Linked DNA regions of Homo sapiens: regions 2, 3 and 4 are each linked to region 1. The links come from fine-mapping of genetic effects on plasma protein levels. A gene starts in region 1. Each other region holds a variant in brackets. All regions are shown on one strand. Distances are from middle to middle.

What was found. PIP is the chance, under the fine-mapping model, that this variant and not a neighbour inherited with it causes the effect. Protein levels are from antibody-based Olink assays in UK Biobank. Linkage for the fine-mapping came from a reference panel and not from the study's own genotypes, which makes the PIPs less certain.
Region 2: its variant is fine-mapped to the plasma level of the CLPS protein (UK Biobank, PIP above 0.99).
Region 3: its variant is fine-mapped to the plasma level of the CLPS protein (UK Biobank, PIP above 0.99).
Region 4: its variant is fine-mapped to the plasma level of the CLPS protein (UK Biobank, PIP above 0.99).

Annotation. Positions count from the first base shown.
Region 1 is chr6:35,793,755-35,801,867 of GRCh38, forward strand. It overlaps CLPS (colipase), which reads right to left and starts at 3,569. Exons shown (of 3, transcript NM_001832.4): 1 at 3,451-3,569; 2 at 1,977-2,099; 3 at 1,228-1,523. The coding sequence starts at 3,534. The coding sequence ends at 1,392. It also overlaps a transcript of CLPSL1 not described here.
Region 2 is chr6:35,742,328-35,750,466 of GRCh38, forward strand. ARMC12 (armadillo repeat containing 12) reads left to right here. Exons shown (of 6, transcript NM_001286574.2): 4 at 4,934-5,107; 5 at 5,249-5,320; 6 at 6,211-6,752. The coding sequence ends at 6,543. Among named protein-coding and RNA genes, the nearest start is that of ARMC12, 9.4 kb to the left of the region's middle. RefSeq lists a silencer at 5,146-5,345. The variant A/T (reference allele first, on the strand shown) is at 3,731.
Region 3 is chr6:35,781,265-35,789,403 of GRCh38, forward strand. CLPSL1 (colipase like 1) reads left to right here. Exons shown (of 3, transcript NM_001010886.5): 2 at 5,734-5,856; 3 at 6,603-6,886. The coding sequence ends at 6,746. Among named protein-coding and RNA genes, the nearest start is that of CLPSL1, 4.3 kb to the left of the region's middle. RefSeq lists an enhancer at 866-1,367. The variant T/C (reference allele first, on the strand shown) is at 4,186.
Region 4 is chr6:35,807,179-35,815,178 of GRCh38, forward strand. LHFPL5 (LHFPL tetraspan subfamily member 5) reads left to right here. Exons shown (of 4, transcript NM_182548.4): 2 at 7,368-7,604. Among named protein-coding and RNA genes, the nearest start is that of LHFPL5, 5.8 kb to the left of the region's middle. The variant C/T (reference allele first, on the strand shown) is at 4,204.

The DNA of each region.
Region 1 (8,113 bases):
ACAGAACTGCAAGATCCTGGGGCTGGGACGACATCGAAGTTTCATTCAGTTCACTGTCCCTCACTCTCTGTGGGAATCTCCTCTCTAGCATCTCCACCGAGGGGTCAGTGAGCTTCCACCTGCGTACCTGGATGATGGGCACCTCAGTACTGCCTAAGGTAACTCATGTTTGATGGCTCCAGGGGATATACAATTTTTATATTAAGGCAAAATTAAATTCCTTGCAGTTTCCACCCATTTTTCTTAATGCGAATAATTGGGAAAGAAAAAGGAATCATAAGGCCGGGCACGGTGGCTCATACCTGTAATCCCAGCACTTTGGGAGGCTGAGGTGGTGGATCACCTGGGGTCAGGAGTTTGAGACCAGCCTGGCCAACACGATGAAACCCCGTCTCTACTAAAAACACAAAAATTAGCCGGGCGTGGTGGTAGGCGCCTGTAATCCCAGCTACTAGGGGAGGCTGGGGCAGGAGAATCGCTTGAACCTGGGAGGTGGAGGTTGCAGTGAGCCAAGAGATCACTCCGCTGCACTCCAGTCTGGGCAACAGAGAGAGACTCTGTTTCAGAAAAAAAAAAAAAAAGGAATCATAGAAGCAGGGCAGTGGAGTTAGATGGTAGAGTGCCAACATTTTCTGATTATGTGACATTGGGCAAGCTCCTCTCTGAAACTTGGTCTCTATCTATAAAGTGGAGATGAGAAATTCTCCCTCCTGGGATCCTTGTGAGCATTTGCTGGCAGAGAGTAAGCTCATAGCAATTGAGAGTGGTCTGACCCCTTAACACATGAGTTGTGTCAGCTAGCTGTCATATTTGAGAATTGTGTCCAGAAAAGAGGTGAGAGCCCAGGATTCTGATGCCTCTGATGCAGGGTGACGAACATGGGCCATTAAAACTCCTTACCCACAAGTGTGTGTGTGTGTGTGTGTGTGTGTGTGTGTGTATGTGCGCGCGCATGCACATGTGCCCGCTTGTCTCTTTGAGAACCGGAGGGACAAGGAGGGCATCCCAGGTAGGTGTGACTTCTCCCCAGAAATGGAGGGTTTCCTAGGCTGGCTGGGTCTCCTTCACAGCTTTGTCTTCAGTCTCCAATCTGTTTGGCCACAACTTCTTCAGCCCCAGACCCATCCCTTGTTCTTCTGACCTGCCTGAAGCCTGCCCTGGTGGACCAAAGGCCTGATGCAACTTCAGAGAAGATGCTGAGTCAGAAAGAATATGCAGGAGACTGGGAAAGGTTTGCAGGAGGCCTTTAATTGTGAAGAGCGCAATCAGAAAACAGATATGCTGGTCAAGGAGGTGGCCAGCCCGGGAGATGCGCTGGAGCAGGGGAGAGATGCCCCTGCGCCTAGTGGCCTACAGCATTCTGGGCTAGGTGTGGGAGTGGGTGGGCAGTCTCACTGCTTGGAGCGTCCAGCGTCATGGCAGATGCCAAAGTTGGTGTTGGTGATGGAGCCCACGATGGTCTTGTCTCCCTCACAGGTCAGGCCACGCTCACAGGGACACTTGTAGTAAATCCCATAGAGCGTCTGCAGAGACACAGCCAATGGAGTCAAGGCTATGGGGAGATACTTTGGACATCACTTGTCCCCTGCCTGACCTAGAGAACCAGTAGGCCAGCCTGTGTTTTCGGGGAGTGCCTCTCCCACCTGCCTCCCCAGGGGTGCCGTGGGCCCTGGAGACCCCAGCTCTGACCTCTGCTCTGGCTCATTTGCTCTTACTAGCTTGATCTCTCTGGGGAGCCTCTATTTACCCAGCCATGAAATGGGGATAACAAATCCCCACCCCCACCCATCTCACTGGTCACTCGGGAGGGTCAAGAGAGATGATGGGATGGGAAAGTGCTTTGACACCTGTCGACCTCCCTCTCGTCTCCTCAACATTCAGTGTCCAGGCTGACCCCCCTCCCTGATCCCACTCACAAGTGTTCAGGGCCCTACTCCCCATTCTCCCCCACCCACGCCAAGTCCTCAGGCACCCACCTTGACAGAGCACTCGCTGTTCTCGCTGGCCATGGATGTGCAGCGGGCCAGGCCCAGCGCACTTGAATGCTGGCAGCAATTGCTCTTACACTGGGCACTATTCATGCAGAGCTCACCGTTCTCCTGCCAGGAGCAGCCAGTCAGCCCAGGCCCCACTCCCTCAGGTCCCTTCTCCATTCAGACCTGTACCCACCACACACTACCACTAACAGTGTCTCCCCTGGTAGGGATGTGTGTGAAGGAGTCCATCCCCTGGGTCTGGTGGCCTCTGTGCCCCCCACCCACGTGAGAAGTGGGCATGCGGTGACAGAGAAGCAGACTTGCACAGAGGGTCAGGACCCCTGGGTTCTAGTACCGGCTGTGCTACCAACCTCCTGTGTGACTCTGGGCAAGTCACTGCCTCCCAAGCCTCAGTGTTCCCATTTGGAATGTGCACACAAGGCCCCTAGACAAGTTCTCCAAACCACTCTGGGTCCCACACCTCTTTAAGGAGGCGGTGAAGATTGCATCTCCCTGCAAGACTCCTTCCTCCCCCAACAGATCTGATCTATAATCTCCAAGGGTCCTGGACCTCCAAGTCCAGCCATGGCCCCAAGTTAAGAGAGTTCAGAACCTTTCAACCGCATGGACGTTCTGGAAGGGCTTTCCCAGCCAAGACCCATGGTGGAGAGGTGGTGTGGGGCAGTGGTGGGGCCCCAGCTGAACCACTTTCCAGCTATGTGACCTCAGGCAGGTTGCTCACCCTCTCTCTGTCTGAAGACAGGGCTGACTCTGAAAACACCTCCCTCAGTGGTTATTATGAGAACAGAATGAGTAAACATCTCCGAGGCATCTCCATAAGTCAGAAGCTGGAATGATTGGCGCAAAGCATTTTCTCAGGATGGAAGCCCAGGGCTCTGGATTTTTACAAAGCTCCCTCGTAGGGCCAGGTGAGGTGGCTCATGCCTGTAATCCCAGCACTTTGGGAGGCCGAGGTGGGCGGATCACGAGGTCAGGAGTTTGAGACTAGCCTGGGCAACATGGTGAAACCCTATTTCTACTAAAAATACAAAAAATAGCTGAGCGTTATGGCAGGCACCTGTAATCCCAGCTTCTTGGGAGGCTGAGGCAGGAGAATCATTTGAACCCGGGAAGCAGAGATTGCAGTGAGCCGAGATTGTGCCACTACACTCCAGCCTGGTGACAGAGCAAGACTCCGTTTCAAAAAGAAAAAAAAGAAAAAAAAGGTCCCTCATAGCCAGGTTGAGCTGCTGCTCTGAGCATGCTCCAGTTGGAGCTGGAGAGGGGCTGATCAGCCTTTCCTGTGGCCTCTGGGAAGAGGCATAGGACAGGACATGGAAGTAAACAGAGGGATGCAAGATGCCACTCCTCCCAGCCCCTGCCAGTCCAGGTGGAGACATCAGAGGTCAAGGTCCAAGCTTAGGAAGTCTTCATCTGGGGACTCAGGAGGCGCCTCCCCTGAAGACCCTCTTACCAGGTTGATAATGATCCCCCGGGGGCCAGGAGCTGCATAGGCCACAGAGAGGGCGACAAGCAGGAGGATCAGGATCTTCTCCATGGTGAGTGGGACAGCTGGTGTGGGTGGCGGGAGACAGAGCCAGCTGTGGTGATGGGGCTATAAAAGGGGCCCTGACCTCACGAGATCCACCTGCATCCCACAGGGCTGGCCGTGGGCAGAGGCACAGCTGTGGCCAATCTGCTGTGGGGCGGTTCCTGATAAGGAAACTGGGTGAGTACCTGGTGGCCTTTTTCGTGTGTGTGTGTGTGTGTGTGTGTGTGTGTGTGTGTGTGTTGGTGATAATTGTGTTGCATCGTGGTTAAGAGTATGGACTGTGTACAAGTTATTAGTGAGGCAAACTTACTATCTGTTCCAACTATTCTGCCTTTCATCTTATCTGTCAACTAAGGATAATTTAAAGAGTTGTGAGGGTTGAATTAATACACATTTATGTGTTACATATATATAAACATTATTATATACAATTATAAGAATATATTTATATTGTATATTCCCATATGCCACATAAGCAGTGGGTAAGGGTGGCTGCCCTTGTGTCTTGAGCTCCTGGGCAGTGCCTGGACGAATCCAAGGCAAGAGAGGCACCTATGGTGTGAGTGCCTGCTTACATTCTGTGTACTTGGGGCCTCTCTGCCTCACTATAGTCAGGCCTTGCCTTTGGCCCACCCAAGCCCAGGTGTCTAGCAGTGTCAGACTCCAGGGACGAGGATCCTAGCCTCCCACCCCTCAACCTTCCTTCAGTCTCCTCGGGGGATTCCAGGCCATGCCCAGATCCCTGGGGCTGACAGTTCTGCAACCCCCAGCAGGCCAGGGTGTGTGTGCTTTCACTTTGGCACCCTCCCCCTGCCCTCACACCAGGGGCTGCCTGCAGGCCTGACTCAAGGGCCCTTAGGAGGCCCTTCCTAAATGCCTCTCTCCCCTTTCCTTTCTACCTCACTTACTATCTGCAATTCCAGCATCAGATACTCACCCCTTTAGTTAAGGTTTCCACTCACGCTGCCCCCTACCCAAGGCCACGTGCGCGCGTGAGCAGTCGCTAGTCCTGGCTGAGAATGAAGAGGTCTCATGAGCCTCAGATGGAGCAGGGGCCTCAGGAAGCTGGGAAGGGCACAGCTGCCTGAGTTTGCTCAGGCATGGGAACAGAGCAGCTTTTCCTGAAGGACTAGTCATGGCAGCCAGAGGCCCCTGCCCTTCCCCTCTCCATCCCAGGAGGTAGAAGACAGCTCCACTGAGAGGCCCAGGCCTCAAGCACAGCTTTTAATTTAATTTAATTTAATTTTTTGAGACAAGGTCTCACTCTGTCACCTAGGCCGAAGTGCAGTTGTGCCATCTTGGCTCACTGCAGCCTCCACCTCCTGAGATCAAGCAATCTTCCCCCTAAGCCTCCCAGGTCTAAAACTCGTGGGCTCAAGCAATCTTCCCACCTCGGCCTCCTAAAGTGTTGGGATTACAGGTGTGAGCCACTGTGCCCAGCCTCAAGCACAGCTTTGATCCAGACCAAGCTGGCTTCAAAATTCAGCATTTACTGGAGCTACGTGGCCTCAGACACATTATTGAAAGTGAAGCTCCCTGAACCTCACTTTCCTTATTTATCTTAGGGGGATAACGCCTCCTACTTCCTGAGGTCATGATTAAGACAATGCACGTGGAACACCTTCGGAAGTGCCTGGCACATGGTGGGTGCCCAGCCATGTAATATGACCCCCTTCCTCTCACCTTTACATCCCTGGGGTGTGGAATGTAGAGAAATAGCTGGAGGAACAACCAGGAGACTCTCAAAATGAGAAAAACCAATTTGGTTCCAGCGATGCAGAAATACCATTGATGAAAGAACACTATCCCCCCTCTCTTTTATAGAACTCAATGTTTGAAAGCACTTTTTCCTATGAGTTCACTCTGATCCTTCCTTCTCTTTTCTCTACCTGCTCCCCACCCCCAGGACCTCTGTGAGGTGAGCCACAGAGAAGGGAATCACTATTCCCTTCTCACAAGTCAAGATGGAGACTGGCAAAGGAATCAGAGGAGTGATTTCTCTCCATGAAGGGAGCTGTGAAAACCATCAGCCCTGTCCCTAGTTGGTCTCAGCCAAGCTTGCAAAGAAAAAAGGCTGGAGTTTTTTCCATTACAAATGAAGTGTAGCAAAGAGAACTTTGACACTGTATGTGCTTCTAAAAGGAAAGCAAAAATTAAGTACCTGTCAATGAAAAGAGTCAAACTCTGTACAATATTTGAATAGATTTATTCTGAGCCAAATATGAGCAACCATGGCCTGTGACACAGCCCTCAGGATGTAACCACTGAAGGGGTTCACCTTGCCCACTACCTAGATAGAGCCGATTCATCAAGACAGGGGAATTGCAGTGGAGAAAGAGTATTTCATGCAGAGCCGGCTGTGCAGGTGCAGGAGACTAGAGTTTTAGAGTTGTTGTTGCTGTTGAGACAGAGTTTCGCTCTTGTTGCCCAGGTTGGAGTGCAATGGCATGATCTTGGCTCACTGCAACCTCCGCCTCCTGGGTTCAAGTGATTCTCCTGCCTCGGCCTCTCGAGTAGCTGGGATTACAGGCATGTGCCACCATGCTCGGCTAATTTTGTATTTTTAGTAGATATGGGGTTTCACCATGTTGGTCAGGCTGGTCTTGAACTCCTGACCTCAAGTGATCCACCTGCCTCAGTCTCCCAAAGTGCTGGGATTACAGGCATGAGCTACCATGCCCAGCAGGGAGCAGAGTTTTTGAAGATAACTTGGTGGGTGGGGGGAAGCCAGTGAGCCAGGGGTGATGATTGGTCAGAGATGAAATCATAGGGACTCAGAGCTGTCTTCGTGCACCCAGTCAATTACTGGGTGAGGGCCACAAGATCAGATGAGCCAGTTTATTGATCTGGGTGGGGCCAGCTGATCCATCAAGTGCAGGGTCAGCAAAATATCTCAAGCACTGATCTTAGGAGTAGTTTAGGGAGGATCAGGATCTTGTAGCCTCCAGCTGCGTGACTCCTAAACCATAATTTCTAATCTTGTGGCTAATGTTAGTCCTACAAAGGCAATCTAGTCCCCAGGCAAGAATGAAGTCAGCTTTGGGAAAGGGCTGTTACTGTCTTTGTTTAAACTATAAACTAAGTTTCTCCCAAAGTTAGTTCAGCTTACGCCTAGGAATGAACAAGGACAGCTTGGAGGTTAGAAACAAGATGGAGTCACTTAAGTTAGATCTCTTTCACTGTCTCAGTCATAATTTTGCAAAGGTGGTTTCAGAATGAGGAGAAAACAAAGAAAATGACCCCCTTTTGAGCACTCCGTAGCTTTTATGGCACCTCTACCTGACAAAGTTTATGTAAAATGGAAATAACGTGGTCTTTGTGCACATTTACATTAAGGAAAAAGAGCCCTAAGGTTGACCTGCAAACTATAGAATTCCTAAGTCATCTTTTTCTCTATTTTTCTTTTCTGCCTGCTCTAAATCTTCCTTCCTTCCTTCCTTCCCTCCTTCCTTCCTTCCTTCCTCCCTCCCTTCCTTTCGATGGAGTCTCACTCTGTTGCCCAGCCTGGAGTGCAATGGCACAATCTCATCTCACTGCAACTTCTGCCTCCCGGGTTCAAGTCATTCTCCTGCCTCAGCCTCCTGAGTAGCTGGGATTATAGGTGCCTGCCACCACACCCAGCTAATTTTTTGTATTTTTAGTAGAGATGGGGTTTCACCATGTTGGCCAGTCTGGTCTGGAACTCCTGACCTCGTGATCCGCCCACTTTGGCCTCCCACAGTGCTGGGATTACAGGCGTGAGCCACCGCGCCCGGCAATCTGCTGTTATTTTTCTATTAAGAGAAAAACCACTGTTTAGATCCAACAAGTTCTTTTTGCAAGCCAGGTGAATTTGTATTTATTTCATGGCTAAAAGTTCTGAAGTAAAAGCTACAAGGTGTGTGTGTGTGTGTGTGTGTTTAAAAGGCCTTTATAATTTCCATACTTTTATGTTTAATTGGCAATTAAATCTGTTTTAATTTCCCTCTAGAACACCAGACTTTTCTTGGCGCACCTTATAATGTAAATTTTGCTGTTTGACTTTCATCTGAACTGTTTCCTTTAATATGCAAATTTAAGGCTATTTAGCTGTCAACTGCCTAGGGTTGTGAAAGAGGTTATCAAGAATTTGATAACTCTTGAGGTCAGGTGTTTGAGACCTTCCTGGCCAACCTGGTGAAACCCCGTCTCTACTAAAAATAGAAAAATTAACTGAGGATGGTGGCAGGCACCTGTAATCCCAGCTACTCGGGAGGCTGAAGCAGAAGAATTGTTTCAATTTGGGAGGCAGAGGTTGCAGTGAGCCAAGATTGCACCACTGCACTCCGGCCTAGGTGACAGAGCGAGACTCCATCTCAAAAACAAACAAAAAGAATCTGAAAGATTAAAATAGGAAAAAAAAAGGTTTTTATAAATCTGTAAGATGTACTTCTATAGGCATGCCTGATATGTCTATGTATTTATGGGTGGTGTGCACAGTGTTTCACTACTGAAAATAAATAAAAGAGCTCTAATTGGCTTAAGAAAATAAAAGCACTTGAACACTTTATCAGGAAAAAAGACTAGTCAAATGCTGTTTCAAGTTTATGTAATGTAAGTAAAATCT
Region 2 (8,139 bases), 51 kb before region 1:
TCTACTAAAAATACAAAAATTAGCCGGACGTGGTGGCGGGCACCTGTAATCCCAGCTATCCGGGAGGCTGAGGCAGGAGAATCACTTGAACCCGGGAGGCAGAGGCTTGCAGTGAGCCAAGATCACGCCACTGCACTCCAGCCTGGGCCACAGAACGAGACTCTGTCTCAAAAAAAAAAAAAAAAAAAAAAAAGCCCAGGGAGTTCAGTTCAACAGGAGAACTTTGTTTTTCACAAATCCCCCAGGAAATTCTGATGCAGGCGGCCTGAGTCCCACTCTTCCTTTTTTTCCCCAGTGTCTTTATGCTGAGGGCCTGACCCCTGGTCTCTTTTCAGGTGAAAGTAGTTACTCCTTGATCTCAATTTCCATCTAGCTGTGCCCTTCTGGATCTCTGCAGCCTGTGGGCTCCCCTGCCTTCCCCATGGGCAGCTGCTACTAGGCATATCCACTTAGATGCCCTCCAAGTTCTCTAACCCAACATATCCAAAATGGAGCTCACCCCATTCCCTGAATCAGCCCACTCTCTCCAGAGGGCTCTTAGGCCATCAGGCCCTTTGGGTCTGCCTCAAGGCTCTCAGCATAAAGTGCGTGATTGGCCATGGGCTGCACCTCCTTGCCCTAACCCCAGCCACGTACAATGCATGCTTTATGCTCTCACATGCCCCCTTGCTGCTGTTCCCTCGTTCTGAAACCCTGTCCCAGACTTGCTGACTCCAACCTGTCCTGCGGGTCGCCACGGCTTTTGAGGGGTGGGGGAAGGGAAGGGCAGGTACTGATGGGAATGCTCACTTCCACTCCAGGACTCTTGCTTACTTCTTACATGGCTCATAAAGGTGCAGCTCGTGAGGTTACCTGTCTTTGGTAATGCCTCTAGGTCCAAGCATCTTACTTTTTTTTTTTTTTTTTGAGACGGAGTTTCGCTCTTGTTGCCAAGGCTGGAGTGCAATGGCGCGATCTCAGCTCACCGCAACCTCCGCCTCCCGGGTTCAAGTGATTCTCCTGCCTCAGCCTCCCGAGTAGCTGGGATTACAGGCATGTGCCACCACGTTCCGCTGATTTTTTGTTTTTGTAGTGGAGATGGGGTTTCTCCATGTTGGTCAGGCTGATCCTGAACTCCCAAGCTCAGGTGATCTGCCCACCTTGGCCTCCCAAAGTGCTGGGATTAAAGGCGTGAGCCACTGCGTCCTGCCCGCATCTTGCATCCTAGAACCGAAGATCCCTTTATTCACTCAATAAATGTAATATTGAACACTTTGTGCCAACACGCTGCTCTAAGTACAGGAGAGAAAGCAGTAAACAGAACAGGGAAGATCCCTGTGCTTGTGGAATTTATATTCTAACAGGGCAAGGCAAGCAATACACAAATAAGTAAAATATATAGTGTGTTTCATGTGGTAAGTGCCATGGAGAAAAATAAAAGGCGGGGGGTGGATAAAGGAGTCTGGGTGGGGGTGATGCAGTTTTCAAGAAGAAAATCTTGAACCCAGGAGGCCTGTAATCCTAGCTACTCAGGAGGCTGAGGAAGGAGAATCACTTGAACCCAGGAGGTGGAGGTTGCATTGAACCGAGATCACCACATTGCACTCCAGCCTGTTTGATGGGAGTGAGACTCCATCTCAAAAAAAAAAAAAGAAAAAAGAAAAAGAAAATCTTTTGAGATGTTGGGCTTGGTGAAGAGTTCATGACATCAAAAGCATGATCTATAAAAGGAAAATCAATACATTGGACTTTATTAAAATTAAAAACATTTGCTCCATGAAAGATCCTGTTAAGAGAATGAAAAAAGCTGCAGACTGGGAGAGTGTATTTGTTTTTGTTTTTGTTTTTGTTTTGAGATGGAGTCTTGCTCTGTCACCCAGGCTGGAGTTCAATGGCACAATCTCGGCTCACTGCAACTTCCGCCTCCCGGGTTCAAGCGATTCTCCTGCCTCACCCTCCCAAGTAGCTGGGATTACAGGTGTACACCACCATGCCCAGCTGATTTTTGTATTTTTAGTAGAGACGGGGTTTCACCATGTTGGCCAGGATGGTCTCGGTCTCTTGACCTCTTGATCCGCCCACCTCGACCTCCCAAAGTGCTGGGATTAGAGGCGTGAGCCACTGTGCCTGGCTGAGGGAGTATATTTGAAAATCACATATCTGATAAAGGACTCAGCTAAATTGTATCAAGTGCTTTCAAAACTGAATGTTAGGCCAGGCATGGGGGATCACGAGGTCAGGGGTTTGAGACCAGCCTGGGCAGCATGGTGAAACCCCATCTCTACTAAAAATACAAAAACTAGCTGGGCATGGTGGTGGGCACCTGTAATCCTAGCTACTCAGGGGACTGAGAAAGGAGAATCACTTGAACCTGGGAGGTGGAGGTTGCAGCGAGCCGAGATCGCACCACTGCACTCCAGCGTGGGCAACAGAGTGAGACTCTGTCTAAAAACAAAAACAACCCTGATGTTAAAACAAGCAGTCCAATTAGGAAATGGGCAAAATACATGAACAGATATTTCACTGAAGAGGATATATGGATGGCAAATAAGCACATGAAACCATGTTTAATATCACCAGCCATTAGGGAAATGCAATGAAGACCATGCTGAGATATTACTGTGCACCTATTAGAAGATCTAAAATCAAAATTAGTGACGATACCAAATGCTGGCAAAGATATAGAAAAACCGGATCTTTCATATATTGCTGGTGGGAATATAAAATGGTACAGCAGCCACTCTGGAAAATAGTTTGGCAATTTCTTTCAGAACTAAACATACATTTACCAATTCAGCAGTTGAACTCTTGGGCCTTTATCCTAGAGAAATGAAAACTTATATCTGCACAAAAACCAGTACACGATTGTCGATAGCAGTTTTATGTGGAATAGCCCCAAACTGGAAACAACCAAAAATGTCTGTCAATCGGTGAATGGTTAAACAAAATGGTATAGCCATTACCATGGAATGCTACTTAGTAATAAAAAGGAATATAATATTGATATGCACAACAACTTGGATGGTTCTCAAGGGCGTTATGCTGAGTGAAAAAAGCCGATCTCAAATGATCACATAAAGTGTGATTTCATTTATATAACATCCTCAAACTTAAAAGGTCATATATAGAGATGGAAAACACAAGTGGTTGCCTGGGCTTTGGGCTGGGGGAGCAGGTGGGAGTGAGTCTAAAGGGGTCTCTTGAGATAGATCTTTGTGGCAATGGGACAGTTCTGGTGGGATAATCTGTTGGCTGCAGTTGTGGTTACACAAATATGTGCATGTGCTGAAATGACATAGAACTATGCACACATATTACACCAACACCAATTTCCTAGTTTTGCTATTATACTATAATGCAAGATGTGACCATTGAGGGGAACTGGGTGAAGAGCACATGGGACCTCGCTGTACTATTTTTGCAACTTCCTGTAAATTTATAATCATTTCAAAATAAAGGCCGGGCGCGGAGGCTCAGGCCTGTAAACCCAGCACTTTGGGAGGCCGAAGTGGGCATATTACCTAAGGTCAGGAGTTCAAGACCAGCCTGGCCAACATGGCGAAAACCCGTCTCTACTAAAAATACAAAAATTAGTTGAGCACGGTGGCGTACACCTGTAATCCCAGCTACTTGGGAGGCTGAGGCAGGAGAATCGCTTGTACCTGGGAGGCAGAGGTTGCAGTGACCCAAGATCTCACCACTGCATTCCAGCCTGGGCAACAGAGTGAGACGGTCTCCAATAAAATAAAAT[A/T]AAATAAAATTAAATTAAAAAACAAAATTAAAGAAATGAAAATGTGTGTTACACGTGACAATGCTGTAGAGAAAAATAAAATAACAGTGGAGGGTGGTAAGGAAGGCTGGGATGGGGGTGGTTAGAGAAGGCCTTACTGAGAAGGTAACATTTTAATGAAGTCTTAAAGGAGGTGTGAGAGTGAGTTGTGAGTATCTGGGGATAGAGTGTGCTAAGCAGAGGGCACAGCCTATGCAAACACCCTAAGACAGGTGTGTACCTGGCATGTTCATGGAATATGTAAGAGGCCATTGTGATGGGAACCTTGGTCATGAGGGAGAGAAGAGAAGATGGAGTCCAAGACATAATAGGGAGAGAGGGGCAGATCACATTGGACCGTATGCCACTGTAAGGACTTTAGCTTTTACACTGAATGAAATGGGGGCTCTTGAGCAGAGGAGTGACATGTCTAACATGTCAGCTGCTCTGAAAGTAGATGCAGGGGGTGAGAATGGAAGCAGGGAGACAGGAGGCTATTGCAGAAATCCCGGTGAGATGCCAGTGGCTTGAAAGAGGGTGGTAAGAAGTGGGGGTGAGGAGAAGTGGCTTGAATTTTGATAGATTTTTGAAGGTAGTGCCTACAGGATTTTCTGAAGGGTTGGAAAAGGAGTGTGAGAGAAAGAAAGGAGTTGATGCCAGCAGTTTTTGGCCCGAGCCACTGGAAGGAAAGTGTAACCCATAGCTGAGACAGGGAAAGCTATAGAAGGAGCAGGTCTGGGGATGGGGGAGCGTGTTAACTCTGAGAGCTCTATTAGACATTTGGGGAGAAAAGTGGAATTGGTAGCTGCATATATGAGTCTGGATTCAGGGGAGGGACAACATAGCTGGAGCTAGAGACATAAAGGGGAGAGTCACCAGCATGTGGATCGTATTTAACACTGTGAGTCTGGATGATACCGGTATGGGAGTGAGGTAGGTAGAAAAGAGGAGGTTGGGCAGAATAGCTAGGAAAGAAGTCTGTAAAAAAAAAAAAAAAAAAGCCAAATAAAGAATTTCAAGGCAGTGGGAGTGGGCAACTGGGTCAAATTATGTTGAGAGTTAGGGAGAATTGTCTATTGGGTTTGGCCCAGGGGACATCCATGGGGACAGTGAAGAGTAAAGTCAGATACTGGGATAGTGGTGATCACCTGTAAAAGTAAGCCCTTTTGTTCTCCCCCACTCCAGGAACACTCCATCAAAGTACTCGAACTGATCTCCACCATCTGGGACACGGAACTGCACATTGCGGGCCTCAGACTCCTCAACAACCTTCCACTGCCCGACTATGTGCATCCACAGCTGCGACGGGTGATGCCTGCCTTGATGGAGATCCTGCAGTCAGACTACATCCTGGCACAGGTGCCTGAGGACCATGGCCAAGGCCCTGCCTTGCTGACCAGCCCTAGCACAGTACTTAGAGGGAGGAGCAGAGGTTTATATCTTCCTTGCTGAGGCCCAGACTCACCTGCCTTCTCATGCTTTACTCTTTCCTTTATTCAGGTGCAAGCCGTACGACTGCTGAGCTACCTGGCACAGAAGAATGACCTTCTCTATGACATTCTCAACTGCCAGGTGAGAAAGAAATTGAAGAGGGGCTGATGAATGCCAACTCAGGTATAGGGGGAGGGAAGAATCATGGCATCTCCAGACAGATTTACCCCTGATGAATTGTTTTAGTATCTTCCTGCCTCTGCACTAAATGCACTGAAAATCATGCCTCTTCTGTTCCCCCCAGTAGAAGGAGACTCCATTTTATTGGGAGGGGGATCCCCCTTTGAGGCATTTCCTGAACTCTGAGAGTTAGGAACACAGGAGACAAAACAAAAGTTAATGTAGGTATTTTAATATTGGGGGGAAATTACTATGGCAAAGAGCATTATTAGGGATAGAAAAGGTTACTCTGTGATAATCAGTGGTTCAGTTCACCAGAACAGTAGGGCAACTCTAAACTTGTATGCACCTAATAACATAGTCTCAAAATATATACGACAAAAATTGAAAGGAGAAATTAACAAATATACCACTACAGTGGGAGATTTGGAATATTTTAACCATTCTTGCAGCAACTGATAGATTAAAAAGCCAAAATTAGTGAGGATATACTCTTAGTGAATAACACAAATAAGCTTGAGCCATTAGACATACTCAGAACAGTCTACAAGGATTAAATGCACAGTCCTCTCAAGCACACACACAATACTTAAGAAAATTAGTCACACACTAAGCCTTAAAATTTGTCTCAACAAAATTTCCAGAATGAATATTATCATATCACTCATGTTTTATGATCACAAGGCAATTAAATTAGAGGATAATAATAAAAGAAAAACTAAAAAATTACTATATACTCGAGTCTGAAATTTAGGTATATTTGGGAGTTTAGGCAATAGGAATATACAAGAACAAGAATTTTGTAACTTGCCTAGGAGTTTATTCCCATTCTTTCTCTATTCCCATCACAGGTTCACTCCAACTTCCTAAACCTGTTCCAGCCCACACAGTCAGGGAGTCTCCTGTATGAGGTACTGGTGTTTGCTGAGCGGCTGAGTGAGGGCCGGAACGCACCCCACTACCACGTGGTGAAATGGCATTACAACGAACAGTCCCTGCATGAATCCCTCTTTGGGGAAGAGTCCCGACTGGCAGACCGACTACTTGCCCTGGTCATCCACCCTGAGGAAGATGTTCAGATCCAGGCCTGCAAGGTCATTGTCAGCCTGCAGTATCCCCAGGACTTGAGAGCCCGGCCCTCCTCCTGCCAGCCCAGTCGTTCCTACTTTAAAAACACGGAATAAAATTAAGGAGAGCCAATAAATGAGTATAGGAGAGAAACTTGAAGTTTCTTGAAGCTCGAATGTCTGTTGGTGGCCTTCCAGGGCTGGGTGGAGATTTCATTCAGCATAACCTCTGCTCCAGAGTGTGGTACAGCATGGGCTTATCTCTCAAAACACATCCCCACTTCTATGTTTGGGGGACTAGCTCCCCTCTTCTCTTGCTGCTTTTCTTTCTTTTTTTTTTTTTGAGATGGAGTCTTGCTCTGTTGCCTAGGCTGGAGTGCAATGGCACAATCTTGGCTCACTGCAACCTGCGCCTCCCTGGTTCACGCCATTCTCTTGCCTCAGCCTCCCGAGTAGCTGGGACTACAGGCGCCCGCCACCACGCCCAGCTAATTTTTGTATTTTTAGTAGAGGTGGGGTTCGGCATGTTGGCCAGGCTGGCTCTTGCTGCTTTTCAAATCAATGTGGAGCCATTGCTTTCAGGGGGTTGGAAGAAGGCAGGCTTGGGGATTGAAGCCAAAGATAATCAACAGGACGCAGTATAGCATTAGATTAGTTAGGATGGGCCAGGCTATCCCACAGTAACAACACTCACACCTCAGTGGCTTAAACATGGCAAAGGGGGCCAGGCGCGGTGGCTCACGCCTGTAATCCTAGCACTTTGGGAGGCCGAGGCGGGCAGATCACGAGGTCAGGAGATCGAGACCATCCTGGCTAAAACGGTGAAATCCCGTCTCTACTAAAAATACAAAAAATTAGCCGGGCGTGGTAGCAGGCGCCTGTAGTCCCAGCTACTCAGGAGGCTGAGGCAGGAGAATGGCGTGAACCCAGGAGGCGGAGCTTGCAGTGAACCGAGATTGCGCCACTGCACTCCAGCCTGGGCGACAAAGCGAGACTCCGTCTCAAGAAAAAAAAAACATGGCAAATGTTAATTCTTGTTTACACTGCATGCCCATTGCAGATCAGCGGTGGGGGTGGAAGGGCAGGCCTCTACTCCACAACATCCTCACACAGAGACCCAGGTTGAGGGAGGCTTCCTCATTGTGTTTCTACAACTATTACAGAAGGACAGGGAATGTGGTAGTGATAAATGTCATCACTTCTGCTCACATCTCATTAGCCAAAGGGGATGAGGAAGATCATTCTTTCCACGTGTCCAAGGAAGAACTGTTGATCCTTGGTGACAGCATGAATGACAGAGATCTGCAGGCATACTGGGTCAGAAAGGGAGCTCTGGAATCAGAGTGCTCGCTTCCAGTCCCAGCTCTGTCACTTACTGTGTGACCTCAGGGGAGCAGTTAACCCTATTTGAGCTTCAGGCCCCTCATCTATAAAATGCATATAATAATAGTACTGATTTCATGACGCTGTTGGGAAAATGAAAGGGGGATTATATGAGTTAACGAACGTAAGCCACAGTGTTCTGCATGCATTCCTCAAAGATGGGCTCTGAGGAGCTATGAAATCATCACTGAGAAAGCCGGGCAGAGTGGCTCACGCCTGTAATCCCAGCACTTTGGGAGGCTGAGGCGGGAGGATCACCCGAGGTCGGGAGTTCGAGACCAGCCTGACCAACACGGAGAAACCCCGTCTCTACTAAAAATACAAAACTAG
Region 3 (8,139 bases), 12 kb before region 1:
TATTTGGGGAGGTGAGCGGGCATGGGGGCTAGTGTGGGAGAAGGCCAGAAGTGGGGGCAGCAGGGAGTGTTGGGTGGAAGATGTCTCGGAGGAAAGAGAGAACAACCTGGTCCTGGAAGCTGTGCCAGGGCAGTGCCAGGTGCTGCTGCCACAGAGGTGAATGTGAGAGAGCCCCCCTGCCCATGCGCACATGTGGTAAGGGAGACAGATATTCACTCATGCAACACATTTTTATTGAGCACCTACTATATGTAAATTATTTTTCTACATTTAGTGATAGGGCTGTGAGCAAGAAAGATAAAAATCCTTGCCCTTGTAGAGCTGTCACTCTAGTGTGTGAGGCAAAGAAGTAAAACATTACAATAGATGCTATTAATAATAGCATCTATCTCAGGTGATAAGCAAGGAAAGGGAAAATAAGAATCGAGCTGTGGGAGTGGTGGTGTGAGAAGGGTTTGCAGGTGTTTTTTTTTTTTTTCTTTTTCTTTTTCTTTTTTTTGGGACAGAGTCTTGCTTTGTCACCCAGGCTGGAGTGCAGTGGGGCAATCTCGGCTCACTGCAAACTTAGCCTCCTGAGTTCAAGCGATTCCCCTGCCTCAGCCTCCCGAGTAGCTGAGATTACAGGCACCCACTGCCACGCCCAGCTAATTTTTTTTTCTGTATTTTTAGTAGAGACAGGGTTTCACCGTATTGGTCAGGCTGGTCTTGAACTCCTGACCTCAAGCAATCCACCCGCCTTGGCCTCCCAAAGTGCTAGGATTACAGGCGTAAGCCACCGCACCTGGCCAGGGTTTGCAGTTTTAAATGGGGTGCTCAGGGAAGAGTTTACTAAGAATGTGAAATTTTAGCAAAGACCTAAAGGGAGGGAAGTCCTTCCTAACCGGCAAAGCAGGGGGGTCTCTGGGAGAAGAGCATTCAAGGTGGAGGGAACAGCCAGGGCAAAGGTCTGGGGGCGGAAATGTGCTGGCATATTCAAGGAATAGCAAAGAGGAGTAAGAGAGAGTGGAAATCATGGGAGATGAGCTCAGAGAGATAAATGGAACACAGTTACAATATTCTCATTTATTCAACAGTTATGCATTCAGCACCTGCAATGTGTAAGGACTTTAGTCCAAGGGGGCTAAGAAATATAGCAGTGAACGTGAGAGCAGAAGATCCATGTCCCAGAGCTGAGGTTGCTAGCGGGGGAAATAAATTATTTTTAAACATATAAATAAGATGATTTCAGAGAGTCATAAGTGTTGTGAACAAAGTACAACCAGGTGATGGGGACTGCTCTGCTGGTGTCCAGGAAGTCTTCAGCCTGAGGCAGGAGGGGGAGGCAGCCGGGCAAAGAGTGCAGGACAGGGTGCTCTGGGCAGAGGGCCAGCAAGCGCAAATGCCCTGGGGCCAGGCCAGGTGTGGATTCAGAGCCCCAGTGATGGCTTTGAATCCAGAGAATGGCATTGTGGGAATTATCTTTTAAAAAAGACTCCTCTAGCTATTCTGGGAAGAACTGACTTGAGGAGGTTGGGGAGGTGGAAGTGAGAGTGGGGATGGTGAGGGGGTACCTGGGGGAGGTCACTGGCAAGGATGGAAGCAGGGAGGCCGGGAGGCGGCTATAGCCAATCCTCCTTTCCTGCCTTATTTTCTTTATAGCACATAATCGTACATAATAGGATTATACATATATAATATAAATATTACTTATTGTTATGTATATAACATATGTGGTAAAAATCACACCTTACTAGGTGCTCAGATCTTGAGTTTACATGGAAATCAATGGATTCGAACCTATGCAGACCCCCTCATCACTACCGTCAGAACAAGATATAGGACATTTTCATTACCCCAAAAGCCTCACTCTTACTCTCCTAGTCAATAGCACCAAAGGCAACTGTCTCCTGACTTCCATTATTATAGATTAGTTTTGAACTTTGTATGATGAAATCACACAGTATGTACTTTTAAAAAAAAATTTGGGCCAGGCGCAGTGGCTCACGCCTGTAATCCTAACACTTTGGAAGGCCGAGGCAAGTGGATCACCTGACGTCAAGAGTTCGAGAACAGCCTGACCAACATGGTGAAAGCCCATCTCTACTAAAAATACAAAATTAGCTGGGTGTGGTGGCACATGCCTATAATCCCAGCTACTTGGGAGGCTGAGGCAGGAGAATTGCTTGAACCCGGGAGGCAGAGGTTGAACTAAGCCAAGAAAGTGCCATTGCACTCCAGCCTGGGCAGTAGAGTGAGACTTTGTCTCAAAAAAAAAAAGGGGGGCTGGGCGCGGTGGCTCATGCCTGTAATCCCAGCATTTTGGGAGGCCGAGGCAGGCAGATCACGAGGTCAGGAGATCAAGACCATCCTGGCTAACACAGTGAAACCCTGTCTCTACTAAAAATACAAAAAAAATTAGCTGTGCGTGGTGGCGGGTGCCTGTAATCCCAGCTACTCAGGAGGCTGAGGCAGGAGAATGGCGTGAACCTGGGAGGCACAGCTTGCAGTGAGCCGAGATCGCACCACTGCATTCCAGCCTGGGCGACGGCGAGACTCTATCTCCAAAAAAAAAAAAAAAAAAAAATCTGACTTATTTTGCTCAACGTTTTTTCTGTGATACCGTATCATTTCACTTATGTATCTCTTCCCTGTCTTCCCTCTCTAGAGCTGTGTGTGTCCAATAGTGCAGTTACTAGTGTGAACCCAAAATATCTGAGACAGGTCTCAGTCAATTTAGAAAGTTTATTTTGCCAAGGTTAGGGACACACCTGTGATACAGCCTCAGGTGGCTGGGGTGCACCTTGCTTTTTTTTTGTTTTTTGTTTTTTGGGGTATAGCTTGCTTTTATACACATTGGGGAGACATAATATGTCAGTCAGTACCTGTAAGATTTACATTCGTTTGATCTGGAAGGGTGGGACAACTTGAAGTGGGGGGCATGACTTCCATTCCAGGTCATAGGTAGATTTAAACAAATTCTGATTGGCAGTTGGTTGAACAGCTATTATCAGCAGAAGGGAATGTCTGGGTTAAGATAAGGGGTTGAGGAGAGCAAGGTTTTATCATGCAGATGAAGCCTCCAGTAATAGGCTTCATAGAAAATAGATTGTACATGTTTCTGATCAGACTTAAGGTCTTTGTTAATGTTAATGCTGGAGGGGTATTAATGAGGCATGTCCAACCCCCACTTCCCGTCATGGCCTGAACCAGTCTTTCAGGTTAAATTTTAGAGTGCCCTGGCCAAGGAAGGAGTCGACTGAGATGGCTGTGGATTGGTGGTGGTGGGAGGCTTCAAATTTTATTTTTGGTTTACACTAGCCACATATAGTTACTTAGATTTACATTGATTAAAATTCAACAAAATTTAAAATTCAAGCCAGGTGTGGTGGTTCATGGCTGTAATCCCAACATTTTGGGAGGCCAAGGTGGGAGGATTGTCTGAGCCCAGAGGTTCGAGACCAACCTGGGCAACAAAGCAAGACTCCTGTCTCTTACTGGTGGAAGGTATCTGAGTTATTGGCAATGAATCTGTATGCATTTACAGCAACCTCAATTCTTGCCTCCTCAGAAGAAAGAATTCAACTGAGGGGCATAAAGCAGAAAAAGAGACTGAGGCAGGTTTCAGAGCAGGAGTGGAAGTTTATTAAAAAGCTTTAGAGCAGGAAAGAATGGAAAGTACACTTGGAAGAGTCCCAAGTGGGCAACTTGAAGGGCAAGTGCAGTGTTTAACCTTGGTCCTACCCCTTAACAGTCTTGCCTACCTCCAGTGTCGTGTGCCTCTCTCCCCTGATTCTTCCCTTAGGGTGAGCTGACCACATGCGCAGTGTCCTCCTTACCCTTGGGAAGTGAGCACATGCAGGGTGTTTAGGAAGTTGTACGCATGCCCATCTGAGGCTTTGTTCCCTTTTCCTGTGGAGTGTGCCCCTGGAAATTTTTTTTTTTTTTTTTTTTTGAGACAGAGTCTCGCTTTGTCACCCAGGCTGGAGTGCAGTGGTGCAATCTCAGCTAACTGCAAGCTCCACCTCCCGGGTTCACGCCATTCTCCTGCCTCAGCCTCCCAAGTAGCTGGGACTACAGGCACCCGCCACCACGCCCAGCTAATTTTTTGTATTTTTAGTAGAGACGGGGTTTCACCGTGTTAGCCAGGATGGTCTCGATCTCCTGACCTCGTGATCTGCCCGCCTCGGCCTCCCAAAGTGCTGGGAT[T/C]ACAGGCGTGAGCCACCATGCCTGGCCCTGTCCCCGGAAATTCATACTCCTCCATTTTTTCTCTTAATGTGCATTCCCCGGGCTCACTCACCCAACACCTGAGATTTTATTGGAAGCCCTTTTTGCTTCTCTCTGGCCCCTGCTTTCAATGGACACTTTAATGTTAACAGCTGTGGACCATTAGAAGCCTGTCTCTCCCTGGAGCCTAACTGCCAAATTATCATTTTTAGAGAGGCAATGTGATAACTGTTGAACCATCACCTGACATTCCTGGTGGGTGGGGGAGAGCCCTCTCCTACCCCACTCATGCCTGTCTAACTACCTGTAACATCTCTACAAAAAATAAAAAAATTAGCTGGGCATGGTGGTGTGTGCCTGTGGTCCCAGCTACACGGGAGGCTGAGCCAGGAGGATTGCTTGAACCTAGAGGTTGAGGCTACAGTGAGCTATAATTGCACCACTGCACTCCAGCCTGGGTGACAGAGTGAGACTTTGTCAAAAAAAAAAAAAAAAAAAGGAAAGGAAAGAAAGAGGGTTGGGCGCGGTGGCTCATGCCTGTAATCCTAGCACTTTGGGAGGCCGAGGCGGGTGGATCACCTGAGGTCAGAAGTTCGAGACCAGCCTGGCCAGCATGGCGAAACCCCGTCTCTACTAAAAATACAAAAATTAGCCAGGCATGGTGGCGCACGGCTGTAATCGCAGCTACTCGGGAGAATTGCTTGAACCCAGGAGGTGGATGTTGCAGTGAGCCGAAATCACGCCACTGCATACCAGCCTGCGCGATGGAAGCAAGACTCCATCTCAAAAAAAAGAAGAAAAGAAAATTTAAATTCAGCTCCTCAGTTGCACTACCACATTTCAAGTGCTCAGTAGTGGCTAGTGGCTATTGGACTGGGCAGAAAAAGCACATTTTCGTCACTGCAGAAGCTCTGTTGGACAGTGCTGCTCTGGAATGTCAGCTGCAGGTGGACAGGGATTTCTGTTTTTGTTGTTCCCAGCTGTATTCCCAGTGCCTGGAACAGTGCCTGGCACACAGTAGGTGCTCAGTATTTGCCTGTTGAATGACTATTGAAATTGTCAGAGATGATGGGTGGCTGTGATCAATAATGTTAATTACTGTCCTAAGCCCCAGTGCTGGGTGGAGGTCATTGATGTGTGTAGGGGGAGGGGCGGTGGGAATGCATGTAGGTGACCATCAGGCACAGGTGAAAGGGTGAGTATGAGTTTTGGGGCGAGAAGGCTCTGCAGCAGAATGAAGTGCAAGAGAGAGACAGGAAAGTCTAGACCACTCTGGTGTGTATGAGAAGCAGCCTATGTTGAGGACACCAAGAGTAAACCTTTTAAAAACTGTTCAGTCCCCTCCAGGCATCCACCGTCTGCACAGACTTACCCCGGCCCCCACGTAGAGACCACCCTGCCTGGCAGGAGCCAGAGGTGATGGTGGGAGCAGAGTCTGGGGAGGAGCCCCGTAGGGAGAAAGCCCCAGGCGGGGCGGCGAGGGCGGAAGGCGGGCGGTGGAGCCTGGCGGTGCCGTGTCCCTCCCTGCAGGAGCTCAAGGAGTCTTGCATCCGGAACCAGGACTGCGAGACTGGCTGCTGCCAACGTGCTCCAGACAATTGCGAGTCGCACTGCGCGGAGAAGGGGTCCGAGGGCAGTCTGTGTCAAACGCAGGTGGGTATCGCCGCCCGGGGGGAGCCAGAGGGGATCCAGGGGAAGTGGGAGCCAGGGCGGGCCCAGATTCCTGGGGAGGAAAGAAGGGTAGGTGGGCGGAAATGCCCTGGAGCCTGGAATTCCCCCGTGGGACTGCACCTCCAAGCCTTCTGGGGGAGCCTGTGGACGGAACCAATATGGTAGCCCACCCTAGGGTTTTGGAATCCTGGATTGGGGCGGGAAGGCGATGTTTCACTTTCTAATGTGGGTTCACATTCTCCAGGAGTCTTCTCAGCAAATTCCGAAAGTAGTACAGTAAATGGGCACAGCTAGGTCCAGCCTCTGCCCCAGAGCCCCGTCTTCATCCAGCTCAGGAGTTCTGCTGTGGCCCCGGGTGTTCCTGGTGGAGGATGGGCAGAGGCAGCCTCTGAGCTGGGTGTGTAGGGGAGGGAGTTGATTTGCCCATGGAAGGATTTAAAGACAAGACATAGAGGTCCTGCGATGGTGTGTCCATGGACTTAGGACAGGCAGATGGGTCAGTGACAGGCAGGGTTACAAGGTCTGGAGCTGGGAGGACACTGAACAATCCAGGAGCCAGCCTGGAGAAGGCAGCCAGAGGTGCCACTCTGAGCAGCTGGCAAGCTATCATTTATCCCTGGATCCTGGCTGTGGGCAAGCACATGGGCCCTGGAGCTGGGCTGGGCTGGGCTTAGGGGCTCAGGGAAGAGCTGCCGCCAAGGTCGAGGTCAAAGTCCTGTCTTTCCCAGGTGTTCTTTGGCCAATATAGAGCGTGTCCCTGCCTGCGGAACCTGACTTGTATATATTCAAAGAATGAGAAATGGCTTAGCATCGCCTATGGCCGTTGTCAGAAAATTGGAAGGCAGAAGTTGGCTAAGAAAATGTTCTTCTAGTGCTCCCTCCTTCTTGCTGCCTCCTCCTCCTCCACCTGCTCTCCTCCCTACCCAGAGCTCTGTGTTCACCCTGTTCCCCAGAGCCTCCACCATGAGTGGAGGGAAGTGGGGAGTGATTGAAATAAAGAGCTTTTTCAATGTTTGCTGCCCACAGAGTTGGGGCCTGGGTGGGCTGGGCTGGGGTGGGCATGGTACAGGTTTCTGGGGGGTGGGGAGGTGATATGAGGGAGGAAGCAGGAAGGGACACTGTTGGACTTGGGGTCTTTCCCCAGTTGGGGCATGAATGAAAGTCCCCCAGAAGAGACCAAAGCTCCCTTCCCACCCCAACCCCTTTCTGCCTTCAGCCCACTCTGTAATCTACCCCCCGGAAGCCCAGTTTACACCTGATATTCCAGTTCCACGACCTTAAATTTCAGAAATGTGAAAGAAGGTACACAAAATATCCATGTGTATAAAGAATTGAGGATGTTTATTGAGCACTTACTAGATGTTAGGGGCCGCTCTAGCTGCCTTATGCACATGATCTCATTTAATCCTGCAACAAACCTGTGGGGTCTCTCCTGTTATCACCTCTGTTTTACAGGTAGGGAAACGGGTTGAGCAACTTGTTCAAGGTCACACAGTTGGAAAGTGCTGAATCTGAATCTTCTGGGAGGCAAGAGAAAAGAGGGACAAGAAAAGAAGGAAGGAAGGAAGGAAGGAGAGCCTAGGAAAGAGTGAGAAAGAAAGACTGGAGCAGCGACTGTGGTGTGGGGTTGGAGAGAGAATGAGTCAAGTGGAGTTTTAGGAAGTCTCAGTGTGTGGTGAGGCTTTTGGAGTTAGATGCTAGCTCGCTTGTCTGTGAGTAGTGCCTGTTATATTCAGGTTACATTTTGGAGTTAATTATTTCAGATTTTGGACCTAAATTTCCACATTCAGCCACCAGAACTGAGCCAAACATGCCCTCCAGGATGTTGGGCTTAGGATGCAAGGGCTGGGGAGTTTGGAGGTAAACTATGGTTGTACTTAGAACGCCCCCTTGTAAGTCATAGCAAAACGATGTGAACCATACCTTGGTAGAATATGCTGTCCTGTACTAAATGTATCAGACAGATAACCAGACTTCCATTGTGTTATGTGAGCTCTCCCCATTCAGAGAAAACCTATGAAATGACCGTGGAAGGAGAGGTGGCAGGCTGGAAACCCAATGATACCCAATGTCTAAGAAGTTCCCAAGGATACCCAATGTCAAGAAGTTAGAAGGGGAAGGGGAGAATACAGAGCCCAGAAATAAACCCAAGCCTGTACAGCCAATTAAGTTTCAACAAGGGCACCAAGAAGACACCTTGGGGAAAGGATAGTCTTTTCAATAAATGGTGTTGGGAAAACTGAATATTCACATGCCAAAGAATGG
Region 4 (8,000 bases), 13 kb after region 1:
ATCCCAGCACTTTGGGAGAGAGCATCACTTGAGCTCAGGAGTTTGAGACTAGACTGGGCAAGATGGAAAGACCCTGTCTCTAAAAATAATAATAATAATAATAAATAAAATAAAACAAATAAAACTGTGGGGTAGGCAGCTACTTGTGCCTTGAGGCAAAACCTCCCTGGTCCTTTTTCCTGCTTCTAGCTCAGGAAGGCTTCTTGGTCCTTGTGCCAAGTGGTCTTGCTCTTCTCTGTAGCCCAGGAAGAGGGTTAAGACCTTGTGCTGCAGCCTCTGGTACCTTGGTCCCTGCACACCTCAGGGGCCACAAACTGTCCATGTCGGTGAGATGTCCAGGAGTAGTGCCGGGGACTGGAAACTAGAGTGAAACCATCTCATTGGTCAGAATGAGAAGTGCTGTCATCTTTAAGAGGGAGACTGAAACAGGCATCTGAATCCCAGACCACCAAACATGCAGATTCAAGACTGCAGAGTTGGAGGGGACCCCAGAGAGCTATATCCACCCCCCAACTATAGATGAGGAATCTGCTGCTGAGAGAAAGGACCAGACTTGGCCAAGGCTGTAGCAGATCAGCAGGCACCTGAGGACCAGGAAGAATTAAGCGGGCAACTGAGGACCAAGGAACTAGATGTATTCCTAAGATGTTTTTACTGAGCCACATATTTACATAAGTATAATGATCTATGAAATATCTTTACATATAATATCTGGAGGAGCCCCAGCACAACCCATTGAGGTGGGTATTTATCTATTTTACAAAGAAGGCCCCTAGTGGGTAACTTGTCTTTGAGCATACAAGTAGGAAGGCATGCACCTTTGATTCCAAATCTTGCACCCAGGCTACTCACATGGCTTCAGAGTTCCCAGCAAATCCCCTTGCCACCTCCCTGTTCTCTGTAGTCTCTCTGTATGATAAGAGAGAGGCCGGGGCAGGGGTGGGCAGTGGGGAGCAAGGTAGGTGGTGGCCATGTCAAGAATGATGGTGGGGGCAGGCACAGCGGCTCATGCCTGTAGTCCTAGCACTTTGGGAGGCCAAGGAGAGGGGATTGCTTGAGGCCAGAAGTTCAAGACTTCAAGACCAGCCTGGACAACATAGTGAGACCCTATCTCTATTTTATATATATATATATATAAATTAAAAATAATCATAATAAATAATATATATAAATAAAAATAATAATAAGGCCAGCTGCAGTGGCTCAGGCCTGTAATCCCAGCACTTTGGGAGGGCGAGGTGGGCAGATTGCTTGAGCTCAGGAGTTCGAGACCAGCCTGAGCAACATGGCGAAACTGTGTCTCTACAAAAAATACAAAAATTAGCTGGGTTAATAAAAATATTGAGTATATATATATATATTCTTTACTATATATTCATTTTATACATATATATATATATATATATATATATATATATATATATATATGAACAAAGGGAAAATGAAGATTTAGTAGTTTTATGCCAAAGAGGAGTGAAATAGACCCTAATATGCTTGCCAGCTCTTCTTCCCTATCAGGGTTATGGGATGCTGGAGACACAACCATCTCTCTCATTCTCAGGGCTGTCTGCAAACCCCCCTTCCCTGAAACATCCCCCAACAGGTGCCATGTGTGAGCAGGCAGTGCCAGGAGGGGGAGGGGTTGACAGGCCATCTGAGTCAGACACTATCTGGGTAGAAAAGCTGGAGACACTGATAGCAGAGGTGGCCAGGTGCCATCTCATGCAACATTTATGTTAGGGAAGGCAAGACTGGTGTCATGTTCCATTCTGCTGTGCTGCGGAAGGGGAAATGAGCCGAAGGGAGAGATGCAGAGTGGGCGGGTCCCATATCCAGCAGCTGGGAGATACATCTATTCATTAGTACCCTTGCCAAGAAGCCTGGGAACAGGGAGGGGGCAGGGGCAAGGAGGACTGATGCTTGGGCGATGTGGGGCTGCAGCTTAACAAGATTAATTGGGCTTCTGGGTGCCAGGTGTAGGCTGGGAGTTGTCCCAGCTCCTAGAAACACAGGTAGACCAAACTGCTTGTCTTCTCTGAGTCTTGGTAACCTCATGTCTTAGTCAGTTTTACTTAGTTCTATTTAGTCAGGGCTGCCATAACAAATTACCATAGATTAGGGGGCTTAAAACAACAGAAATTCATTTCTCACAGTTCTGGAGCCTGGAGGTCTGAGATCTGGGTGCCGGCATGGCATTAGCACGAGATCTCTGATGAAGGCCTCTTCTAGGCTCTAGACTGCTGACTTCTTGATGTCCTCACATGGTGAAAAGAGGATGACAGGGCTCTCTGAGGTCCCTTTTATGTATTTATTTGCATTGATGATTATTATTATTGAGTCAAGGTCTCAAAAATGATTATTTTTACCCAGGCTGGAGTACAATGGCATGAACACACCTCATTGCAGCCTTGACCTCCCAGGCTCAAGTGATCCTCCCTCCTCAGCCTCCCGAGTAGCTGGGACTACAGGTGCATGCCAGCACACCCAGCCAATTTTTGTATTTTTTGTAGAGATGGGGTTTCACCATGTTGCTCAGGCTGGTCTGGAACTCCTGAGCTCAGGCGATCTGCCTGCCTCAGCCTCCCAAAGTGCTGGGATTACAGGCGTGAGCCACCGCACCCGGCCTTATTATTGTTTTTAATTGACATAATAATTGTACATATTTATGGGCTACAGTGTGATATTTCGATACATGTATACAAGCTGGGCTTGAAATCCAGGCAGCCTGATCTAATGTTTCCTAGCTTTTCCTACTGAGAAAATGAAGGTAATTAGCATATCCATCACCTCAAACACTTAAAACATTTCTTTGAGTTGGGACGATTTCAAATTTGCTGTTCCAGCTATTTGAAAATATACGATAGATTGCTGTTGGTTATACTCACTCTACAGTGCTAAAGAACACTAGAGCTTACTCCTCCTGTCTAGCTATACTTTTGTATCCATTAACCAACCTTTAGCTGCCCCCGCTCCCCTCTGGGGTCCCTTTTATAAGGGTTCCAATCCCATTCGTGGAGGGCCCTACCCTCATGACCTAATCACCTCCCAAAGGCCCCACCTCCTAACACCATCACACTGGAGGTTAGGATTTCAACACAGGAAATCTGGGAGGAACAAACATTCCACTGTACCCCATCTGTAGAACATAGCAGCAGTACCCACTTCAGGGGGGTTCTGTGAAGATGGGATAATAGAATGCATGTAAAACACCTTGCACATGGTAAGTGCTCAGTACCTGTGAAAAACACAAAAAACAGGCTGGGCATGGTGGCTCAAGCCTGTAATCCCAGCATTTTGGGAGGCCGAGGTGGGTGGATCATGATGTCAGGAGATCGAGACCATCCTGGCTAACACAGTGACACCCCGTGTTACAAAAAAATACAAAAAAATTAGACAGGTGACATAATCCAGGATGCAACTGGGAAAGTCCCAGGCACAGCTGCCCTGTGGGCAGGGGATAATCCCCCCAAAAAATACAAAAAAATACAAAAATAAAAAATTAGCTGGGCTTGGTGGCGGGCGCCTGTAGTCCCAGCTACTTGGGAGGCTGAGGCAGGAGAATGGCGTGAACCCAGGAGGCAGAGCTTGCAGTGAGCCAAGATCGCGCCACTGCACTCCAGCCTGGGCGACAGAGTGAGACTCCGTCTCAAAAAAAAAAAAAAAAAAGAAAGAAAAGAAAAACACAAGAAACAACTATATCAGTGAGCATGAGAAGTGATGCCGTAGTAACAAACCACTCCCAAATCTTGGTGGCTTAGAACAACGGTTTATGTATTTCTTGCTTATGGTCCGTGCCAACCGGGGATCGGTGGGGGCTCCGCTCTCACTGTTGTCTCCTGGGACCCTCGCTAGTGGCATCAGTCACCATCAGCTGTCCTCGCATCAGAGGGAAGGGAACTCTGGGAGGTCTCCCACTGCAGCTAAGTGCTGTGGCCCGGAAATACACACATCTCTGCTCACATGTCATTGGCCAGAGGAAGGCAGATGGCCTCACTTAACCTCAAGAGAGCGGAGCAAGGAAGTACAACCTTGCCTTGCACCTGGAATATTCGTGAGCAGCTCTAATGGCATCCATGTCACTGAGGTGGCTTCTGTCTGACTCCAATGTCAATAATAATAGCAGTGACTAACATTAATTGGCCACTTTCCATGTACAAGACATCATAGTAAGCGTTTTCTGTAAATGATCACACTTAATCCTCA[C/T]AGTGCTGCTATGAGTCAGATACTTTACAGACAACAGGACGGAAGTCAGAGAGGGTAAGTAACCTGGCCTGAGAACACTGTGCTGGCTTCTGCTTAGAGCCTTGAGATGCCACAACTGGGGCTGACACCCACTGTCCCCAGAACCGTGGGTGGATGGGTAGAGTGCTCGCAGGGGACTGTGGCACCAACACCCTGTTTCCAGGTCAGAGGCCCTGGGCTTTTTTCCGGAGCCCCCACAGGAAGATGGTGCAGGAGGGGAGGGGCCACGGGAGGAAGTGATGGAGAGAATGCAAAGCCTGGAAGGGCAGCTCCTTCCCACCTTCACCTCTGCCCATGAAGCCAGGGGCCCTGCCAGGCACTGGAGGGCTGGACTCACATCAAGTCGGGGAAGGGCTGGCTACGTAGGTTTCACCACGGAGCTGTGGATGGCTCCCTCTCCTCCACCGTGGGTATCTTCCTGAACACTTAGTTTTCACTGAACACGTAGGAAGTCTGAAATGTCACCGCTAATTACATTCAGCCCCTGGGAGAGATGTCATGTTCTGGGGGTGGAGGGAATAAACTTTGAAGTCAGGAAAGTCAGGAATGGAGAACTCAGGCCTTGGCCCTGTCATAGCTGGATGACTGGATGGCTGGTAAGTCACTTGGTTTCTTTGAGCCCTCAGTTTTCTAATCTGTAAAATGAGGATATTAATAGCCAGCCCACTTCACAGAAAGGTGATCACAGTCAAGATGGTACATGAAGTATTTTGTGATCTATAAAGAACTATCTAAATAAGCTTCTCCTAAAAAAGATCAAAGGAAGCGTGATACATTTAGGTGGGGAGGTGGGACCCTGATTTTTCCATTTACTGTGCATTTGTTTGACCTCCTGACCTTCTTTGTAGAACAAGCTGGAAGCAGGGAAGGTAACTTTAGGCCTGAAGAGGTGCTTTTCTGAGGGTCTCCTGAGTAGGGTACAACCTTGGGACTAGAGAGCCTCCAGACCTGTGGGAAAGTGGCACAGATAAGGGGAGCACCCCCTGCCCGTGGGGCAGCTGTGCCTGGGGCTGGCTGCCCCAGTTGCATCCTGGATTATGTCACCTGTCTCTGCTTCACCCCAGCAAAGCTAAGGTGAGGGGATGGTTTGATGGAAAGGGATGGAAGAAGTGGGGGGAAAGTGGGGGCAACAGAATTTTTAGCTGTAAATAATAAGTCAAGTAAGGCACAGGGTGTGATAATAACTCTCACAGTCAACTCTTATGGAGTGCCAAGTCTGTGCCAGGCACTGTTCTACACTCTTTTCCAGTATTAACTCATTTGAACCTTGCTGTAACCACAACAGGAAGGTTAGGGTTATTATTATGTCCATTTTGTAGATGAGGAAACTGAGGCAAACAAAGCTTAAGTATGGCTGGGCACGGTGGCTCACGCCTGTAATCCCAGCACTTTGGGAGGCCAAGGCCGGCGGATCACTTGAACCCAGGAGTTCAAGACCAACCTGGCCAACGTGGCAAAACCCCGTCTCTATGAAAAATACAAAAATTAGCCGGGCATGGTGGTACATGCCTGTAATCCCAGCTACTCAGGAGGGTGAGGCAGGAGAATCACTTGAATCCGGGAGGCGGGTGTTGCAGTGAGCCGAGATCGTGCCACTGCACTCCAGCCTGGGCGACAGAGCAAGACTCTGTCTCAAAAAAAAAGAAAAGAAAGCTTAAGTTGCTTGCTCTGAGTCACATAGCTAGGTAGCAGAGAACTGGGTTTGAAATCCAGGCAGCCTAGTCTAGTGTTTCCCAGCTTTTCCTACTGAGAAAATCACCTGGAAGAGTGCTTTTGAAAACAGGGATTATTGAACCCAACCATGACCTAGGAACTAGCATTTTTTTTTTTTTTTTTTTTTTTTGAGATGGAGTCTTGGTCTGTTGCCCAGGCTGGAGTGCAGGGGCGCCATCTCGGCTCACTGTAGCTCCGCCTCCCAGGTTCACACCATTCTCCTGCCTCAGCCTCCCGAGTAGCTGGGACTACAGGCGCCCACCATCATGCCCGGCTAATTTTTGTATTTTTAGGAGAGACGGGGTTTCACCGTGTTAGCCAGGATGGTCTCGATCTCCTGACTTTGTAATCCGTCCACCTCGACCTCCCAAAGTCCTGGGATTACAGGCGTGAGCCACCGCACCCGGCCTCCAGGGGATTCTTAAATTTAGGGACGTGTAGCAACTGGACTATGCTGTACTGGGTAAGAGTGAGGAGGAAACCTGTTTGCTTGAATGGAAGGCTTTTGAAGGAAGCAGCCAGGGACAGTCTGGAAAGCCTTCCTGTATACATTAAATCTAAGATACCTGAGTTGTAGGACACACTGTTATTCTATGTACCATAAAAACAAAATATACTGATAATCTGGCCATGGCCTGACACTTTCTTTTTCCTTTTCCTTTTTTTTTTTTTTTTTTTTTGAGACGGAGTTTCGCTCTTGTTGCTCAGGCTGGAGTGCAATGGTGTGATCTCAGCTCACCGCAACCTCTGCCTGCAGGGTTCAAGCTACTCTCCTGCCTCAGCCTCCCCAGTAGCTGGGATCACAGGCATGTACCACCACTCCCTGCTAATTTTGTATTTTTAGTAGAGAACAGGGTTTCTCCATGTTGGTCAGGCTGGTCTCAAACTCCCAACCTCAGGTGATCTGCCCGCCTCGACCTCCCAAAGTGCTGGGATTACAGGTGTGAGCCACCACCCCCAGGCTAGACACTTTCTTATTGAGCTTATTTCACAGATGTTGTAAGTACGAAGAAATGTACATCTCAGCAGTGATGAGTTCTTTGGGCTGGGACTAGATACCGGAGGGCTTTGAAGCCAGGGTAGGTGGTGCCTGGTTGAGTCCAAGGTGAGGAGAATGGCTGAAGGCCTGGGAGGACCACCTGGTGTGGTGGCAGAGCCGGCCTGGGCTTAGGAGCTCAGCTCTGCCTCCGCCCCAACTACTGGGTCTCGGGGGCCAGTTGCTTTAACTCTCAGAGCCTCAGTTTTCTCACCTGTGTTCTGCAAGAAGGATGGTAGAGGCTGCCTCTCATGCCTCCTGAGGCTGTTAACAGAAGGAGAAGGGAGGTGACAACATAACAGCAGTGCAAGGTGTGGGAGGTAGCGGGCTAGGCACACTCGGCCTGATGCCATGTGCACCCCTCCTTCCCCCTCAGCCACAGGCCTAATGATTGGCTGCCTGGTCTACCCTGATGGTTGGGACTCAAGTGAGGTGCGGCGCATGTGTGGGGAGCAGACGGGCAAGTACACGCTGGGCCACTGCACCATCCGCTGGGCCTTCATGCTGGCCATCCTCAGCATTGGCGACGCCCTCATCCTCTCCTTCCTGGCCTTCGTGTTGGGCTACCGGCAGGACAAGCTCCTCCCTGACGACTACAAGGCAGATGGAACCGGTAATCACCCAACTCCACAATGGTGTCCCCTGCCTGGAGACCCTGGGATGTGGGTGGGGGTTCATCTTAGCCAGTCCTCTAAGGCTTGGTCCCTGGCCAAGGGATGGGGACACCAAGACTAATCAGACACACCCCTTGTCCTCCCTGAAATCAAAGGCCAGTGGAGGGTTGCAAGCTAGCAGGTGATAAGGCGATCTGTGATAAAGGAATGTCCCCCTCACCCCTCTACACTCTCAGAGGCTATAGGGGAGAGAGCTGCAATCCAGCCTTGGGGGCTAAGTGTGGTCTCCCCTAGAAGGAGGCACTGAGGCGGGGTCTCGAAGTAATATTCCTGGAAGTTTGTTGGTGGAGATGGGGAACAACAGCAGATGAGTTGCTGGGGAGGGAGTGCGACCT